Linked DNA regions of Homo sapiens. The protein of the gene in region 2 binds, or shares a complex with, the protein of the main gene of each other region. Each region holds a gene or a part of one and is shown on either strand. Other genes may lie near its edges. The genes, in order: GNAI3 and RGS2. A codon is read from its position in the direction of its gene.

Evidence for each region.
Region 1: the proteins of RGS2 (region 2) and GNAI3 are in contact, whole or in part, in a crystal structure (PDB 2V4Z), measured with the Homo sapiens proteins. Residues at the interface, in NP_002914.1 of Homo sapiens: Glu104 (codon at 1,023), Phe105 (codon at 1,020), Glu108 (codon at 1,011), Asn109 (codon at 1,008), Glu143 (codon at 906), Ala144 (codon at 903), Pro145 (codon at 900), Glu147 (codon at 894), Ile148 (codon at 637), Asn149 (codon at 634), Asp151 (codon at 628), Phe152 (codon at 625), Leu180 (codon at 541), Asn183 (codon at 532), Ser185 (codon at 526), Arg188 (codon at 517); in NP_006487.1 of Homo sapiens: Val179, Lys180, Thr181, Thr182, Gly183, Ile184, Val185, Gln204, Ser206, Glu207, Lys209, Lys210, His213, Ala235, Glu236, Asp237, Glu238.

What each region holds. Positions count from the first base shown.
Region 1 is NC_000001.11:109,590,220-109,603,185, forward strand, and holds the end of GNAI3 (guanine nucleotide-binding protein G(i) subunit alpha-3), read left to right. Parts: intron 1-1,823; coding exon 1,824-2,014; 3' UTR 2,015-2,036; intron 2,037-2,125; 3' UTR 2,126-9,976; downstream 9,977-12,966. UniProt on the Homo sapiens protein: Heterotrimeric guanine nucleotide-binding proteins (G proteins) function as transducers downstream of G protein-coupled receptors (GPCRs) in numerous signaling cascades.
Region 2 is NC_000001.11:192,805,097-192,812,038, reverse strand, and holds the start of RGS2 (regulator of G-protein signaling 2), read right to left. Parts: upstream 3,001-6,942; 5' UTR 2,968-3,000; coding exon 2,858-2,967; intron 1,874-2,857; coding exon 1,772-1,873; intron 1,670-1,771; coding exon 1,608-1,669; intron 1,059-1,607; coding exon 892-1,058; intron 638-891; coding exon 443-637; 3' UTR 1-442. UniProt on the Homo sapiens protein: Regulates G protein-coupled receptor signaling cascades. Inhibits signal transduction by increasing the GTPase activity of G protein alpha subunits, thereby driving them into their inactive GDP-bound form.

The DNA.
Region 1 (12,966 bases), about 83 Mb from region 2:
AACCAAGTTTTAGGATTGGGGGAGAGAGATGTAAGACAAGTAAAATAATTGGCATTAATGTTGAAGGCCCAGCTTAGAGTCTTCACACAAAGCAAAGAGCCTTTAATATCATTTCCATTTTCTTTGTTGTTGTTAACTTCCAAGCCTATCCTCCATTGTCTTCATTCTGTGTACAGATTCTTACGGTCCTTATTTGCCAGGTATTATTATCTGTTCCTAGCAGACAAAATTCACTTTTCACTCATCTGCCTCCTTTAATTTACAGAGGTTGTTTTCCAGATTTTAAGAACCTGCTTCAAGCACCTACAAAGCTGTTTTCCTTCAGTTCTTTAAATATTTTAATTAATATTCTTTTCCTTTCCTTTTTTTTTTTTGAGACAGTGTCTTGCTCTGTCTCCCAGACAGAAATGCAGTGGCATGATCTCGGCTCACTGCAACCTCCACCTCCCAGATTCAAGTGCTTCTTGTGCCTCAGCTCTACTACAGGTGCCCACCACCAGGCCTAGCTAATGATTTTTTGATTTTTAGTAGAGATGTGGTTTCACTAAGTTAGCCAGGCTGGTGTTGAACTCCTGACCTCAAGCGATCCACCTGCTGCGGCCCCCAAAGTGCAGGGATTACAGATGTGAGCCACCGCACCCAGCTCCTTTTTTCTTAAGCTCCGTTTTGTTACCTGGTCTTCTTTATATCTTTGTTATTGATATTTTTGTTATGCTTCACGTTACTGAAAATAGCCTGTAGTTTATTGGAATAATGAATTGTCTTTGTTGCGTTTCCCTGGCTTTATAGCCAGTTTCTAAGGCTACTCTAAAGGTTCTATAAGTAGACAAGATGGTGTAAAAAGCAGGTGATTTAAGGGTATTAATTACAAATATTGTTGAGACAGGCTTTGCTTTTGGTTCCTGTCACCTTTCTTTTTGTAAAAAATAATAGCTTCATTGAGATATAATTGGGAAACCCTAAAATTCACTCTTTTAAAGTGTATTGCTTTTCCTTATTTAAATTATTACCTTAAGGCTTTGAAGCTAAACCTCTTTAAAACTGTGGAATGATTTTGAAAAGAACAATTTACCTTGTTGAATTCCTTTTTTTTTTGTTTTAATACAAACAATCCCATAGCGTTTATTGCCATCTTTTAGTAACATAAGGGTAATCAAAACACTATGAATGAATGTTCATATTGGAAAAAGGACATCTAAAAGCAAACTGTATCCTTCTCAACAATTTCTCACTTCATTGATCCTTTCTAGTTGGAGACACTTTGTAGCAGAGTAATATTATCTCCTTTTAGCATGATCCGACCCAGTTGTTTTAAAAAATATGGAACGCTTCACGAATTTGCGTGTCATCCTTGCGCGGGGACTGTGCTAATCTTCTCTGTATTGTTCCAATTTTAGTACATGTGCTACCAAAGCAAGCACTACCCTGTTGAATTTTTATTCCAAGATCACTCCAAGGAACACAGCCTCTCTCAGACCTTTTAAGCAGTTGTGTTCCCTAGAAATGCACCTTCCTACTTTCCTAGTTTCCTTTTATACTTTCTAGATTTTTTTAGCTGAAAAGTCTAAATGAAAAGGTAAAGAGAAATTTAACGTTATGTTTTCCTCAATCTTTGTGTTTGATGATTTTATTTTGTTACCATGAGAGTCCACTCTCACGAAGAACCTAATTATAGAAACACCTAATGATTATAGAAATAGAGAATTCTACTCATATTTAATTGGGTTATGTTCCCTCTCCATAAGTAAATGGTAATGGTCTGACTTAGTTGAGTTCAGGCAGCTGTTACAATTTGAACTGAGAGTACTGGGTGTCCGTTTTAGGTTCCAATACATATGAAGAGGCAGCTGCCTATATTCAATGCCAGTTTGAAGATCTGAACAGAAGAAAAGATACCAAGGAGATCTATACTCACTTCACCTGTGCCACAGACACGAAGAATGTGCAGTTTGTTTTTGATGCTGTTACAGATGTCATCATTAAAAACAACTTAAAGGAATGTGGACTTTATTGAGAAGCATGGATGTTAGTGAAAGGTAAAGTTTCATACAAGGTAGTTATAGTGCTACAGTGATGTCTCTTGGTTTTTAAACTTTTTCTAATTAAGAATATTCTTCTCTTCTAGTTACTACAGTGTGGAGTGTTGAGACCAGACACCTTTTGCTGTCTCATGGGGCAGCTACAAGCATGAACGGGACCAGGGAATGGCAGCAGCATGCAGAATCTTAGCACTCTTTAGCACAATATTTTGTATTAGGGAACTTTTAATTGACATGAGATGCTAAAGTCAGACATTGGAATTGGAAGAACTATAAAGTGTGATTCGATCGTCAAGACATCACTTGGATTTCTTAATCTTAAATGCTTATGGAAGATGTGAAGTTGAGGTGCTGCATTCTAGAACTTCAATATGTAGCTTACTCTTTTTTTCCCCCCTTCTTAAACCACCAGTGGTTCATTTTTAAGGTTTTTTCATCAAGAGAAGAATAACTTTACTAAATTTTATTTCTTTATTTGCAAAAGAATCTTTATTAAAACAAACAATCTTAACTATGCACATGATGTGACCAGATCATCTTGAAAATATTCCTCTTTAGTAGGAACTCTTTGTTTTTAACTCTTGGTATGGTCAGAATATAATACTTCCATAATTACTTATAATTCTTTCCGGTTACTGGGGCTATAAATACAACTTTTTAAATGAAATTTATGTTATTATCCTGCTCAAAGTACCATTATGGTTTCCATATGGTAATTACATTGGAAAGTTCTGCAATAAGATTCTAGTTCTCTCTTTTCTTTAAGCTTATGGTTGAAGGTTAACCTTGTTTGTGCAGATTACCAAATTACTGCTGATGTAGTATGATAAAGTCAGCTTCTTGGATACAGACACACCCAGGGCAGCTGCCAATCAGAAATGCAAATTGCTAAATTCCAAACAGAACCAGTGACTTTGCTGCTACATATTTACTAAATTGACCACTTTGATTCTTGCTTGTTTGTCTCAGTTATAGGGAGTTTTGTACATGGTGCCTCTTGTTTTCCATCTTCATGGCCTTTTCTGTTGAGAAACATCTAAAGTGTATTAACAGTGCATGCTTTTACTTTGTAAATGTGGTGCCAAATCCCTGTTTGCCATCGTTTTTACTGTACCGATGTTAACTGTAGTAATCCTTAGCCAGTATGTTCTTTTGCTGAAACTGTTGCATTTTGGGACTTTTTTCCACTTTGTCATGTGTACATTTTTAATCTGTTATAGTTGGCGGCAGTATTAAAATGGTGAGTAAAGAGCCCAGGTTTGCTCCTGTTTGTAACTAGTCTTTTCTGGAAATACTGTCTTCTGTTTCCTTTTGCCTTTGCAGAATGTGCTTTAGCCTTTGTCTGAGAATGGGTTTAGGTAGAAGGGTTTCCTGAAAGTCTAGTCTTTTGGTGTAATAGTATTGTTGAACCTTAGGTTTTATGTTATATCTGCATATGAGTGATATGTGATCATGATTCATTTTGCAGATTTACATTTTGCTTGTGTGGAAAGTTACGTTCACTTCAACCTACAGACCCTTTTGTATAATGTACAGCAAATGTCATTAAATATTGAATGCTCTATTGGGGGAAGACAAATGAAGAGAATGCATTTTGAGCATTTCAAATCAGTAGTTTGGGCAGTGCCTTTTGGGGTCCAATCTTTTTGGATTGGATTCTATTTCATCTTTTGATGTGACTTTTCACTAGTTTACAAAAAAAAGGTTGGTGGTCAACAAAAAAAGCAAGTCATAGCAGTTCAGTGCCTTTGTTGGTAGTTTTTAACTTTTTTTGTGATTCTTTTTGGAAAATCATAGCTTACAGATGGTATAACTGTATTATATAATGGAATTTTCTTTAGGTGTGGGAAAACTTGATCTGAAAGAAAATTATCAGCTTCAATTGGCGATTGATTCAGTGCCCACAATGTAAACAGGGTTGGTAGTTGTTACTCATTTTGAATATACCTTTTCCTTATTGTATTCTGTAATATAGGATCCTGGAAATGAGACCTGGTGGAATATTATTTTCAACTGTAGTCTTTCTATACTGTGGACTAATGAAATGGTGTTGTTGATAATCTAAAATAACCAATAATCCAAAAAAGTTCATTTTACTTTGAATTTGTATTTTCATTTGAATATCTATCTGATATGTTAAATTTTTAGCCCTTCTGTTAAAGAAAAATAGCAGGTCCCCATTTTTCTGCCTCTGTACCATTTACATTTGCTCTCTGTTTGTTAACATGAAGATCACTCTTATTTCACCATCCCAAATAACTTATCTAAATGCACATTCCTTGAGGACACAGGGAGACAATTTAAGTCAGTAGTTTTTAATATGACTTAAGTAAAAATCACTTGGACCCATCTAAGGGATTGACTTTTGGCTGGTGGGCTGGCAATCGATTTTTTTTTTTTTTTTTTTTTTTTGAGACGGAGTCTCGCTCTGTCGCCCAGGCTGGAGTGCAGTGGCGCGATCTCGGCTTATTGCAAGCTCTGCCTCCCGGGTTCATGCTATTCTCCTGCTGGGACTACCAGGTTCCTGCCACCACGCCCAGCTAATTTTTTTGTATGTCTTAGTAGAGACGGGGTTTAACCGTGTTAGCCAGGATGGTCTTGATCCCCTGACCTCGTGATCTGCCTGCCTCAGCCTCCCAAAGTGCTGGGATTACAGGCGTGAGCCACCGCACCTGGCTGGCAATTTATAATTTTTAAAAGGTGATTCTGATTACCAGCCAGGCTTGCAAATCACTGGTTTGTATTGAAATAAAAGATATTTTCTTGTAGCAGGGCTAAAATGTGGGATGAAACATTAAATCTACTAGCCTGAAAAAAAACTTTGGCATTTGTAATCAAAGAAGCTGAAAGTTGCCTTGTGTGTTTCCTCTGAAGAATGCTGGAGATTTGTGATGGATAATGTTTCAGAATTCAGGTGCCTATGCTTTGGACCATCAAAGAAGCCATTAGTCTCTGTGTAAAGAAGAAGTATTCTTAATGGACAGTCCCCCCTAACCTTATAAATTCAGCTTTGCAACAGATTTCACCTCCTAGCATGAAAATTCCAAAAACTTTAACAATTACTCATAAGTGGATCTTGAGATGACATTTTCATCTTGGACAGTTTGAATTCTAAATCTCTAGTTCACAGTGAATCGTTTTTTAAATTTTTACTGATGGATCGTTATTTTTCACAAGGTACTACATTCTTACAATGTAAGACTAGATGGACCAAAATTTTAAAAAAAACTTCTTGCCTTGTTTTTTTAATTTTCATATATATTCTATTTGTTGTATATACACATTAGACTATTTTAAAATAACAGCTGGTTTTTGTAATTCATTCATTCACCCTATATTCTTATATTCTGCTCATTATTCTCTCATTTATAGCTGTGACATTCTTTGGACATTACTTGCCTGGCCTGATTAGTTACTTAATATAATTTATTCATTTGCTTAGCATGTGTGACATAGTTCTGGAATTTCCTGTTGCAGAACTCCTTGCTGTATTGCAGTCATATATAAGGTAAAGTCAGTCTCTTGTTCCTATTAAAAAGCTACCATTGATTATTTTCCCTTTTTACATGTTCAAAAAAAAAAAAATAAGCAACCCTCTACTCATTTGTATAAACCTAAAACGTCACTGTTTTCCTTGAGCGTTAGTACTTGTGGGTTCTTTCCTTTTCATGTGTAATACTGATTTTAAGAGCAATGATCTTAGTTTGCCAGTGCCAGGTAATTATTGTGTTCTACTTTAGGCTTCGTAGTGCAAATCAGGGATCTGACCTGGATCAGCCTCAGCTCTTTACATAGCTTTATGATCATCATATTTTGTTGTATTGCTCCCAACAAGCACAAGAGAAAAAGGCAGGCTTCCTAGAGACCTCAAGTTGAAAGTTGATTTTGCTGACAACTATCAGGGAGTAAAAGAAAGCCTTTTTCAGGCACTGGAGAACTAACTTTAATGATGATCAAGGTCTTTATGCCTTTATCTTTTAGTTTTTAAGATCATTTCTCTCCCTCCTTTCCCCCCAGTTTTCTCAACATTTATGAGTTAGTTCTGCTGAGAACAACATACTTCAGAACATGTCAGGATAGGGCAGTTTTTTCTTGTTTTTCTTTTTTCTTTTTTTGAGACAGTCTTGCTCTGTTGCCCAGGCTGGAGTACAGTGGCACGATCTCTGCTCACTGCAACCTTTGCCTCTTAGGTTCAAGCGATTCTTGTGCCTCAGCCTCCCAAGTAGCTGTGATTACAGGCATGTGCCACCACATCTGGCTAACTTTTGTATTTCTAGTAGAGACAGGGTTTCACCATGTTAGCCAGGCTGGTCTCAAACTCCTGACCTCAAGTGATTTGCCTGCCTTGGCCTCCCAAAGTGCTGAGATTACAGATGTGAACCACTCCACCCACTCAGGGCAGTTTTTTTTCTGATACCATATCAGGCCTAGGCCTGGGCTGACTCAAATCTTCTCAGGAATAAGAGGTAAGAAGGAATGTTAAACAGCAGTAGTTACCTGGGGTACATGGTTAATTTGATTTAGCAGATTCTTTGGCTAAACCCTAGTAAATTAAAATGTCTGAGCCAGGTCATGGGAATATACATGTTTTTAATACATTCCTTAGGTGATTTTGATGTAGCCAATCTGGGCCAACATTTGGGGACAACTGAGTAGGACCTAATACAGGTTGAATAGCCCTTATCCAAATCTCTTGGGACCAGAAGTGTTTGAGAGTTCAGATTTTTGTGAGGTTTTGAAATATTTGCATTATATACTTATTGGTTCGGGATTCCAAATCCAAAAATCTGAAATCCAAAATGCCCCAGTGTGTGCTTCCTTTGAGTGTTATGTTGTTACCCAAAAAGCTTTTGATTTTGGAGCATTTTAGATTTTGGATTTTCAGATTTGAAATGCTCAATCTATATTAAAGATCAACACAGGCTGAGCACAGTGGCTCATGTCTGTAATCCCAGCACTTTGGGAGGCCGAGGTAAGCAGATCACTTGAGGTCAGGAGTTTGAGACCAGCTTGGCCAACATGGTGAAACCCCGTCTTTACTAAAAATACAAAAATTAGCCAGGCATGGTGGTGGATGCCTGTAATCCTAGCTACTCGGGAGGCTGAGGCAGGAGAATCGCTTGAACCTGGGAGGCAGAGGTTGCAGTGAGCCGAGATCGCACCACTGAATTCCAGCCTGGGCGACAGAGTGAGTCTGTTTTTTTTTTGTTTTTTTTTAAAGTCAACACAAATATTGAAAATAAGCAACTTCAGTGCACAAATAAGCTCAAAATCACTAGTGAGTGATCTATTTTTTGCCAATAAGAAGTACCATTTGTACATGACTTAAAGTGCCTTCCACCAAGAAAATTATTGAAAACTGTTGGGTCACATAACATTCCTACACTTTGGATACAGAGTATTTAGTTTTATACAAAATTAAGACAACAAGAAACCTAGGATGTCCAAACATTCATTTCATTTATTTTACTGCATTTATTTATGCAGTGAAAATTGAAAGATACACCAAATTAAAGATAAAACCCTGTGACAGATAACAGTATATGTAATAACATGAATATTTATTTACACTTGGTAGAGAAAGCAAAGCTAGCTAGCTCTAAACTAGAATGAAAGTCGTTTTGAAATGGGTACGGGGGTATATAAGGGGAATGATTGAGTCACATGTAAAAGCCTTTGTATGCCCAGTGCTAGTGTTTTCCTGAAATCTAGTGAGAATCACAAGGTACCAGAAATAATCAAATAATAAATATTAATACACTGCTGGGATAGAAGTATCTCAGTGTACCAGCATTCACTAAGCTATAAAATCTGTGACAGCAGGAATATTAAATTATGAACAACCTGGTTTATCTGTCTCCTCTTATCTTTTACCTCTCCCTACGCCCAAAATTCTCCTTAGGTTATCCAGACATTTTTACTAAGATGCTTATTTATATGTAAGAGAGATTTCCAGTAGATACAACAAAACACAAGAAATCACCTGTTCTGTTTATTCTTGCTCATGTAGGATAAAGGTCCTGAGACCTCTCAGAATCTTACGAGGTTGGAGAGTTGTTTGGAATGCTGGGTTCTGGTCTTGTCTCTGCTTCCAACCAGCTATGGAATCTTGTGTATTCTTTCAGTCTTAAATCACTCATCTGTTATCTAAAGATGGACTAAATTATTCCTTCCTGCTGTGATATTCTGTGGTTCTCATCAGATAGAAATAACATATTTGAAAATGCTTTGTAAATGTTATGATACTCAGGATTATACTGCACAGAAAAAAAAAAATCCTAAGGCAGCACCAACAAAGGTATTCAACGTAGTGGGTGGTCTTTTACAGCATTACTTTGCCCATATTCATTTTGAAGACCTGAAATGAAGTTGAACTATAAATTGCTCTAAAATTCGTGAAGCAGGGTGAAAAGGTCTTTGCTTTGTTTTACATTTAAATCCAGCTGTCTATTTTCTGCTTATACTAGTGCTTTTTCATGGCAAAAAGACAGAAAAGTTCCCTTCTGCAGTCTCCAGTGTCTTCTGACCTCACAGAAATGTTTTCATGCTTTTACCTAGCAGGACCACCAGAGGCTCTGTCACACTTGCAGTCCCTGGCCCAACACCGAAATCCTTCTGGAATCTGTGCTCTGGGGGCTGTGCCGGGTAGAGAGGGCAGTGGGAGGTAAGAGCTCTTCACCCTTCACCACCTTCTCCACCCAGCATGGCCGGCACACTTTGGTCTACGGCACATCTCCAAGTATAGAGTGGGTTTTGAATGCTGTTATGTCTCACCGTGGGGATGGGAAGGAATACTCTGTTTTGGACTATTTGGAGGTACATGTGAGTGGATTTTATTACCAGAGTAGGAACTGTTTCAAGTTAATGTGTCTTTTATGTTGCTTTTAAGACAACTTTTGTGCCGCTTTTATCCATTCTTCCTTTTATCCACAGAAATACAAATTTCTAATTATAGTATATTTTTTCTATTTTTAAAATTGTGATAAAGCATATATAACAAAATTTGCCATCTTAAGTGTACAGTTCAGTGGCATTAAGTACATTCACACTGTTGCACAGCCATCACCACCATCCATTTCCAGAACTTGTTTTCATCTTCCTGAACTGAAACTCTGTACCTGTTAAACAGTAACTCCCCATGCCCCACCTTCTTTCAGCCCCTGGTAACCAGCATTTTCCTTTGTCTCTATGAATTTGACTATTTTAGATACCTCATATAAGTGGAATCATAGTATTTGTCCTTTTGTGTCAATCATATTGTATTTTTGTCTAAAAAAGGAAAACTATCAGATTTATGTGAAATGTAACGTAATTTACATTTGATTTACTGTTAGTAATGTCTCTTTAATCATGCTATGCTAGGGAAGTACATTATGGTCTCTCCCTCTAAGAATATGAAGAGGAAATTTTACCTTCAACAAACAAGCAAACTTAGTTATATTTTTGTGATTTTATGCTGTTTTCATATTCTATTTTGAGATCTATTTGTCTTAGCTTGGAGGTGGTTTTGTTAAATGTCCACGATTTAGAGACGGCATAATGAAAAAATGACCAAGAATTTGGTTGGGAATGGGAGGAGCTTAGAAGAACAAGAAATTGGCTTTGATTTTATAGTGTATGGTGCTCTGTTGGTAGCTGGACATCATCACAGGCTTTGGATTGAGAAGACCTGTTCTGGAGTTCTAGTTCTGCTACTGCCTAGCGTTGTGATCTTGATGAAGATACTCTTCCTTCCTGGGCTTCAGTTTTTGATCTATAAATTGCTAGTGATGGGGCTGGACTATTTTTAAGTTTGTTCTAACTTTAGCAGTCTTAAGAATTAAGGTTGCATGCCAGAAAATAGGGTTAAATATTTGTTTCTGATCTGGTTACAAAAAAAAAAAAAACTTGATGGCTTAAAGTAAATAAAAATTCAACAGTACGGTGTAAATTTAAAATGAGGCAAAAGAAAGATAATGACTTAATTTTTATTTTAATCTTTCTTATAGCTGTTTTATATAAGAACTTTTCATGAATACAATCAAAATGTCCATGAGATAAAAATAAGCTAATTGTGCAGGAAAAGTACAAATGCACTTTTTCTGCAGCTCTAACATGTAAGGTTTGGGAACAATCGTTGGGCCTGACAAACAGTTGAGCTAGGGTAAGGGTGAATGCCTTTTCTGGAAGCCTATCAAGAGCATCGAGGTGAAGTCCTCTTACCTTTAATCATGGGAGAGCCCATTCTGGACCAAGGGTTTGAGAAAATTATTCTGACTGTGTTCTAAGGTAATAGGTGAATGGGTGCTCAAGGGCCCCTGTTGCATTTCATGTAGACTTGCCAGAAGAGTTTTAGCTTGAAAACATCATAAGATGAATATAGGCAGATCCCAAACTCAGTAAAAAAACAGCTATAGAATGTTGCTCTATCCTCCAAGATGAACACTTTACATAATGTTTGTACAAGGTGGCTTGTGTGAGTTTGTTGATAAACCAGTTAAAAGTTGGGATATCCCCCAGCTATCCCAAAAGAAGAGGACTAAATACAACCATGTTTTAGTCTGCTAGAGACTTGTGTTCTGACCTAAGACCTGTCAGAAGACCTGTCCCACTGGCTCTGCTTCTGTACTAGTACTATAAGGCAGGTTCTGTGTGAACATTAATAACCAAGGATCCTGAGTTAGACTTATAGTTTGGTCAATAACCAATTTATACCTAGATTGAAAGACCAAGGAAAAGTTAATAAAATAATCAACAATCTGGTACTATTTGAGGGAAAGTAGGGCTATCCTATTTGGAGATGGAATAAATGGGATAAATTATGTTTGGGGCCTGAATAGACAAGATCATAGCTTGTATAGTAAGGGTTCTTAACCTGGGGCTTCAGAGCTCCAGCGAGTCTACAGAGAGACTATTTGATATGCTAGTTTTCTTTGTATTTCTCTGAATTTAATTTTACGTGTTTAAAAATATGATGATGAAAAGAGGCACATGGTTTCATCAGATTGCCGGAAGGATCCATGATACAAAACAGATTCAGAACTCCTGTATGTTGAGTTAAAGTGAACAGATTAGTAATGGTTGGAGCATGATATTCAGAGTAGTTCCTGAACAGCTCTTGAATATGAGAAGTCTTTCCCAGGTTTTTTGTTTTGTTTTGTTTTGTTTTGAGATGGAATCTCACTGTCGCCCAGGCTGGAAGTGCAGTGGCATGATCTTGGCTCACTGCAAACGCCTCCTGGGTTCAGGTGATTCTCCTGCCTCAGCCTCCTGAATAGCTGGGATTACAGGCAGGCACCACAACGCCTGGCTAATTTTTGTATTTTTAGTAGAGACGGGGTTTTGCCCTGTTAGCCAGGCTGGTCTCAAACCCCTGACCTCAGGTGATCCACCTGCCTTGGCCTCCCAAAGTGCTAGGATTACAGGTGTGAGCCACCGTGCCCAGCCAGGTTTGTTCTTTGGCTTGAGTTTTTTCATCAGCAGTAGCCAGAGTAGTTTCTCGGATAATTCTCCCAAGCTGCTTTCTTTTTAGGGAATCAGAAAGACTATTAAATGAGTTTAACTTTTATAGCTACAAATTTATTCTTAAGTGTATTTCAAGCTCATATGGCTCTCTAGTATTAATATTGCTAGTAGCAGCCTAAGTGTGAGTGGGTGTTTCTGGCAAGGAGCAATTTCCATTTTAATTGACATTTTCTTCTATGTACTAAATCTTGGATGCCAAGAGCTTTCCTCACTGGTAGTTGTAAATGCTAAATCTATATACTTAACTTCATCCCCTTCTGTCAAGATAAATGCAAACTTCATTTCCCCTCAAAGGAGTTCAAAGGAAAACTTCTTGGCGTGTTTGGGGAGATGTTTTCATCCACCATCACATGGACCCAACTGCAAAGATTTTCAGTGCCTAAAACAAGCTCACCTGTCTTGGTTCTTCTGAAACACGTAGCAGTTGAAAAGTTTAGAATTGTTCACTTGTTCCAAATTCTATGATAGAGAGGCGGCAGCAATACATTCATTAATACTCTAAATGAGAGTATTTGATGTCCTCTAAGTTTATTCAGGAAGTATCTTATGTAGCTAAGAAACATTTGTAGAGATAAAGGTCTGTTTGATAGCCTGGGGGCAGAGGGATAATGTTTGCTTAATAAAGATGATCGTTTTGGGATGTGCCTTAGAAACTAACAAACTCGCATCTCCTATCCAGTGATCCAGATCTCTGAGCTAAGGCACATAGAGGTCTGTTAGTAAAAAGGGAATGGCAGGTTTATTTAGGTTTGGTTAATACTAGTTTTTTACAGACTATAGGAAGCCTTGCTATTTTGCTTGGAATAGTTTGTTGCAATAGTTTATTCTAAAAACCAGGTGTTGAATTTAATATATGGCAGCTTTTATATTTTTATATAGGATTTATTTCTGTGACCCTAAGCACAAGCAGGCTTTTTTTTTTTTTTTTTTTTTTTTGAGACAGTTCTGTTGCCCAGGTTAGAGTGCAGTGGCGTGATCTTGGCTCACTACAACCTCTGCCTCCCGGGTTCAAGCAATTCTCTTGCCTCAGCCTCCCGAGCAGCTGGGATTACAGGCGCCTGCCACCATGCCCAGCTAATTTTTGTATTTTTGGTAGAGACAGGGTTTCACTGTGTTGGCCAGGCTGGTCTCAAATTCCTGATCTCGTGATCTGCCCACCTTGGCCTCCCAAAGTGCTGGGATTACAAGCGTGAGCCACTGTGCCTGGCCTGCACAAGCAGTTTTTATGTGCCTTCCCTTCAGTTATGTTCGTGCTCCTCAGAATAACCCTGTAAAGTAGGTAGGGAAGTCATCTTCATTTTATAGTTGAAAGACTCAAGACTCAGAAATAAAGTATTCACAGTTTTGTATTAAGTTGGAAAACCAGTACTGGAACCTGGGGGGTCTTCTAACTACTGGCCTGTGCTCTTTAAGCTGCAATAGC
Region 2 (6,942 bases):
CACATAGTAAACACTTCACTGTTACTGAATCCTAAACTAAAACTACTATGTGGTAACATGGATCGATTTAGGGAAAGATGTACAACCAGCTACCTAAGGCCACATAATCCCAGATCTATTGATTTTAAATGCTTTTGGACCAACAGTATTACATTGTCTCTTTCATCATCTTACATTCCTGCTTTTCAGAGTGAGACACCACGTTCAGACCACCTATTCCCTTCTTGCGTTCTGTACACAGTGAGGGAAGCTGTTCTGATACCAGCTTCTCCTAGTCAGTTACTGGCTTCCTGATTCACTACCCAACTTTGAATCAATAGTTCTGAGTGATGTTTCCTGAACACCCAGGCTGAATTCAAGGTCAGTCTTTATGGCAGGTCACAGTCCTTCCCCTCAGGAAAAAGAATGAAATGTCCTCCATTTCTGGGCTCCCTTTTACATTTCATGTAGCATGAGGCTCTGTGGTGATTTGTGGCTTTTTACACAAGTCCTGGTAGAATTCTGACTCCAAGAAACGAGGATAAGAGTTGTTCTCCATCAAGCTGTATACCCTTTTCTGGGCAGTTGTAAAGCAGCCACTTGTAGCTTCTTGTATATTCTGGGCAATCAGAGTTTTGGTTTGAAAATCTATGTTTATCTGAAATAAAACAAAAAAGTTGTTTATTTGGTATTCAGAGTTAAAGATTAAAATTTAGTATTTGAAAACAAAAAATAAAAATTATGTGTGATTAGCTTTACTAGCTAAGTCACAGGAGAACTTTAACATAACTGAAAGCTACAACGTGGAGGGACTTTTTACCCCTCCTAGCCCGCTTTGTCCTTGATTACTTTGTTTCACTTTTGTGCTAAAGATGTCCAGATTGTGCTGAAATTAGGAACTTGTTTCCTTACCTCTTTTGGAGCTTCCTTTTCTATGAAGTCAGTATATATTTTCCTTGCTTTTGAGGACAGCTTTTGGGGTGATTTGGTTTTTTTGAAGTCTTCACAGGCCAGCCAGAATTCAATATTTTCTTCACAGAATTCCGACTTTAAAAAAGCCCTGAATGCAGCAAGACCATCTGAAGGGGGGAGAAAAGAGAGCATGCAGAATGTGAAGAACTGAGAGACCAAATGATTCCTTATGTTTCTCCTATCCCTCACATTTTAATTATTTCTAAATGAATTTTCTAGATTTCGCTCAAACCTGTAATTCTCAAAATTTAGCTTTTTAAAGACTAAGATACCAGTAGGCAAAAGGCTTATGTTGGCACTCTGCTGCAAAAATATAAGTACTTTGCTGTCAATGCAAAGTAAATATTTATAGGGGAGCCATAAATTCTCTGGGAACTAAGCCTCTTGAAAACATTGTATGCAATGGAAAAACTGACTCAACCTTAACTATAAGCAACTGCCACTTTAATTTGTTTAGGCTGATTTTCTTCCCCACCTGGAGAGAATATATGCATTTATTTGTTAAACCCTGGGAAATAAAGGAAAGAAAAACAGGCTTTATCCTATAGTGACTGCAGTCTAATCCCCCTCAGGCAAGCTGCTCTTTTGTTAGGTGGACGCAGCCTTTCCAGGCTTTTGCGATGTTAGCAATGGCTCAAGCTCAAGAGTTAACTTACATTTGCTGGCTAGCAGCTCGTCAAATGCTTCTGACCACAGCTGTGCTTCCTCAGGAGAAGGCCTGCAAGAGAGGTTCTGTATGTTAGCTTACGCACATCAGAGTTCCCCTTTTCAGTTCAGCAGCTAACTATTGATATTTGCAAGCACAGGATTCTCAACTTACTTGATGAAAGCTTGCTGTTTGCTTTTTTTGCCGGTTTTGGGCTTCCCAGGAGTAGAGGAATTTTGTAAGAAGTAGCTCAAACGGGTCTTCCAATCTTTTAAACTAAAACAAAAAATTAAAAAGATAATTACTAACTAGCAACACTTGAATATGCTACTGCAGCTGAACGCATTTTTACCAAATAAAGTCACCCAGTAACTAGAGACAAACCGCATAAGGCAAAGCAAGAACTCTTCAAATAAGTCTTATCCACCTAACATTTAAACCTCATGTACTGAGCAGTTTCGTCCATTAATCTGACCGTATCTACTAGTTTTACAACTAAGGGCAGGGCTACCTATAATCACTAGGGTATTTTAAAGAATTGTTAATGAATTTAGTTCAAAAGGCAGACACTATTTCTGGCTCACAAAGGGCATCAGTTTGTTTGCAAGGTTAATTACAATTCCGAGACGTTTTGCACTTTAATGAAAAGGACAGACATGGAACTGTCTGGAGCCGGCCCACGCTTCTCTCTTTAGAGCAGGAGGTTCTGGACCACGCCAGAGACTGTACAAAGAGGTGGGTGACTGATTCCCCTGCGCTCTTCCTTCCCCACCTACGACACTTCTTTTAAGCAGACGCTGCATAACAATTATTTGTTCCACATTCGGACTGGGTGAGATCTGCTCTATAATTAAAAAACAAAAATGGATTTTAAACGAGTATATTCAGAACCAGCAAGAGCATCACCTTCCAGTAGCTGTGTAAGCTGATGAGAACTCATCATGCAACGTATGAATGCTGGGGACGCGCTTCAGCCGCAGGATTCTGATGTCATTTTGAATGCAGGAGGACAAAAAGCCAACCCGCAATTTCTTAGCGCATCAACCACCGCCCTCATATCAACTGTCTCCCTCGGTTCTTAAACTGTACCCGAGCATCACCCAGATTTAACCTTACTTAACAAATTGACCTTTTCGATTTTTTTTCCCTGCATAGGCTCAGGCTAGTTTCCTAACGTCAAAGGCGAGCCCGAAAGTACCGCGTTTGCAGCTTGCAGTGTGGGGCAGGGGGTGGCGGGAGAGGGAAGAAAGCCATACTCACAGGGTCCGTTTCATCTTTTCTCGCTTCTCCTCGCTCTTGTGGCCACTGCCTGCGCTCTTGTCCATGGGTCTGCAGTCGTGTTGAACAGCCAAGAACATAGCACTTTGCATTATCGTTCTCCCGCTGGAGCCCCGGCTGTTTGCGGCTGGGCGTGCGTCGCAGCATTTATGAGGCCTCGGCTTGGGGGCGGGGCCTCGCGGCTCCGGCCCCGCCTCAAGAGGACGCGGATTGGTCGGCTGCAGACTGGCACGGGGATGGGTCAGCGCCCGCCGGCGGCAGTCACGGCTGCTGCCGAAGGGTCTCGAAGCCGGGGCGCTGCTGACGTCTGCGGCCCCGGCTTCTTGCGCACTCGGGCCACATAGCAGCGGCCAGCTGGGGCAGGTGTGGGAGCAGATGGAGAGTCTTCAGTGTGGGCCGCTGCGCACGACCTTTTGCTGAAGCGTGGCGGCCGGGCGGGCTCGAGGGCTTTGCGACGGAGGGAGGGAGCCGAAGTTGGCGGCGGCCCGGCGGGGGCGCCGGCGCTCCCTCACCCACCCTGACGGGCTCCCCAGCCCGAGGCCAGAGCGGCGATTCCCTGGCAGGAGGAGGTCGCCCGCCACGAGGCCGGAGTGCAGTGGCCTGATTTCGAATGAAGAGTGGGATTTTTCTTCCTTTTTTGAGCGCGTTCCCTGACCCCGCGCCTCATTTCTTGTTTGCTGTCCTGCTGTAGGACTCATTCGACACCCCCTGGTCTGTGAACTGAGGCAATGGGGAGACCCTCGCCCGTTTCTCTCTGCCACTTAACTTAAGGAAGGAGTAACCTGAAACGTTGATTGCCCAGGGGCAGGGTGGGATCTGCTCTGCAGCTTGCTGGGGCGTCTTGGAACACTTTGAGAATGAACATTAGGGATTGAACAAGAGAAAGTGACTTTATCAGAAGACAGTGCTTTAATTGGGTTTGCATTTTTGATCACTACTAGGCACGTGGCTGGGTCTGTCTATAGGGTCATTCCTCAGGAGTCCTTGGTCACATCTCCTGCCAAAATAGAAATCACAGATTTCCTTATGGTGGGAGAGAAAGCTGCAGACATAGAGATTTCATAGCTGTAATGCACCAGAATCAGTGAGTTCAAGGAGTCAGGATTTCCTCATGAGTCATTCTTGTTGAGTTAGGATTTACCAGAACATTTAATAACTGGCAAAAAGTAGGGGGGAGAATGAGTTAACAGTTTCCTTGATTAAGTTTTATTTGTTAATTCTTCAAGTATCATCTCTACTCCTGAAGGTTTTAAAACGACTTGATTGGTAAAGACAAATAGATTACCTCAACCACAAAATGAGTTGATTTCGGATAATATTACCAGAACTAGCCAGTGAAATGTTTAAGCGGCTTTGCAACCAAGCTGCAGATATTCTCTCTACTTTGTATTCGACTTCTTAAAAGGAAATTGGAAATAATTAATATATTCTTACGGTGAGCTGCCAGTAGTTGGAGCTCCAAGTTTGACTTGGAGGGCAAAACCTGCAGTTATTATTTAAGACAACAGTTGTGGACTTTATTGTGGAAAGGAAAATCGTGTAGATTTCAGTAATAGATACTTTGAAACATGCTTGTTAACTCTAGGAATGCCATTTTTTCTTAAGCATATGCTCTTCCTCTCCTATGCTTTGCATAATAGTCCTACATCTATTTTCACTTTCTGATGACTCAATACGTATTTATCAGCTGTCTGTAATACGCAGACACTTGCTTTTTCTCACCACTGTAAACCTCAATATATTTTATACTTAGAACCTTAGATGTTAGAATTTACTCATAGACAGTTAAATTCGCTGGCAGGCCAGGAGTTCTGACAAAGAGGCAGCAGAGAGAGAGAGCTGGACTTCTGTCAGGAGACCCAGTTAGAGCCTGGGCTTATCCAGTAAATGCTAAGTAACTGTTGGGACACTAGCTTCACACCTCTTTGAGTCCCAGTTTCTCATCTGTAATAAGAGTAACATGTATTTTCTTGCCAGCCTCATAGGATATTATGTGACTCTTACATGAAAGGTCTTTTCTAAGCTCTAAAGTACTGTACGGAAGTTTATTACTGATTTGCATATGTGTGGCAAAAGGAAATGTTCAAATCATAGCTGTTCAAGATGGAAAAAATCGTACGAGGATTAACTCAGACGTAATTAGGTTATAAATATGTAGGTACTATTAAATATCAAGATGTTTCAATTTGTAGGTACACAAATACACAAGATACACAAATTTGTAGAAGATTAAGCTCATTATAGATATTTAATAAATGCTCACTGGATAATACGTAGGAAAAATAAGGAAACTGATTAACATTTAAACTTTTCAGGCTGGGTATTGTGGTTCATGCTGGAAATCCCAGCACTTTGGGAGGCTGAGGCAGGTGGAAGGCTTGAGCTCAGAAGTTCGAGGTTCAAGCATTCAAGTTACAGTGAGCTATGATTGTGCCATTGCACTCCAACCTGAGTGATAGAGTGAGACCCTGTCTCTTAAAATAATAATAATAATTAATTACACTTTTCAGATATCTCCAAGCCAAGGAAGTTTAATCATCTCAATATATTAATGAAAGTGAATATACATGTACCTGCATAAGCAACTGGTTTAAATATAGATTATTCTTGATGTTTTTGTGTTTAATATAATTCTTTGCTTTTTTCATAAACCCTTCCAGATCAGTGACTGATGTTAGGTGGCAGAAAATTAATTTTTCTCTGAAAATTATGTGGTTGGTTAATAAATCTGGATATAAATCAACTTGTAATTTTTGTATCTATATGTAATTTTAAGAGTTAAGGCAGTACCTGCTATAGAAACCTTTTCCTCAAAAACTTGCCATGTTAATGTCTTTTAAAAGACAGGCCAATATATGTATATTTACATATACATGTAATATATGTGACATGAATATATACATCATATATTTCACGCATATATGTAATATGTATTACATGTATATTTACATATGCATTACATATATTTACGTATATATAGGTAAAACAAAAGCTGGAATCTTTGATGACTTCCCTTTTTGTTGTTGCAACTGGCTTTTAGGTAAACAGAATTGCTCCACATAAAGATGACACATATTTTCCATCCTGTGGTAGAGGAAGAAACAATGCAGTGGGTTGTAAAAGTTGCACAACAAAACCTCAGTTTGAGAGTGGCTGATAACCTAACCATACATTTTCTGTGTTGAACCTACCATGCCCTCTACTGGAGAGATTGATTGAACAGATTAGTGGTGGAGGTTTTCCAGATAATTTATGAACTTTCTATATTTTTTTAAAAGTTTATAGAAGAAGGCAAAGAAAAAATACAAGTTTCTTGCATAATGTATCTGAGATTCTTGTATTATATATCTTGCGTGTCTTAAATTATGAAGAGTAAAAATTTCCCCTGTCATACTTCTCCCTTCTGCTCCCACTCTATGCTAACCATTATTAATAAAAGTTATTAATTCCTATTCCTATTAACTAAAAATATTTATATAAAATAACTCACCTACTTAAGCTTTAGAAATGTGAAAGCCATTGGATGCTGTGGCTCACGCTTGTAATCACAGCAGTTTGGAAGGCCAAGGAAGGAGGCTTGCTTGGGCCCAGGAGTTCAAGACCAGCTTTGGCAGCATAGCTAGACCCCGTCTGTACAAAAATATATTAAAAAAAAATTACCTACGCATGGTGGCATGCACCTGTAGCCCCGTCTACTCAGTCAGTTGAAGTGGGAGGATTGCTTGAGCCCAGGGACTTTGAGGCTACAGTGAGCCATGATGGTGCCACGGCCCTCTAGCCTGGGTGACAGAGGGAGACCCTGCCTCTTAAAAAAAAAAAATAAATTAAAAATAAAGAAATAAATAAATAAAAATAGGAAATTTAGGAACCAAGATACTTGCTTTTAAAAACACAAAAGTATCATTCTATGTATTATTCTGTGCTTTGCTTTTTTCAGTTAGTAAGATATTTTAGTTTCCAAATTTCTAAGAGCTGTAAACCTATCGTTTACCTTATGAAATGTTAAATAGGTGGGTTAGTTAAAAAAAAAAAAGGAAAAAATCAGGAAGTTACATGCTATATGGTGA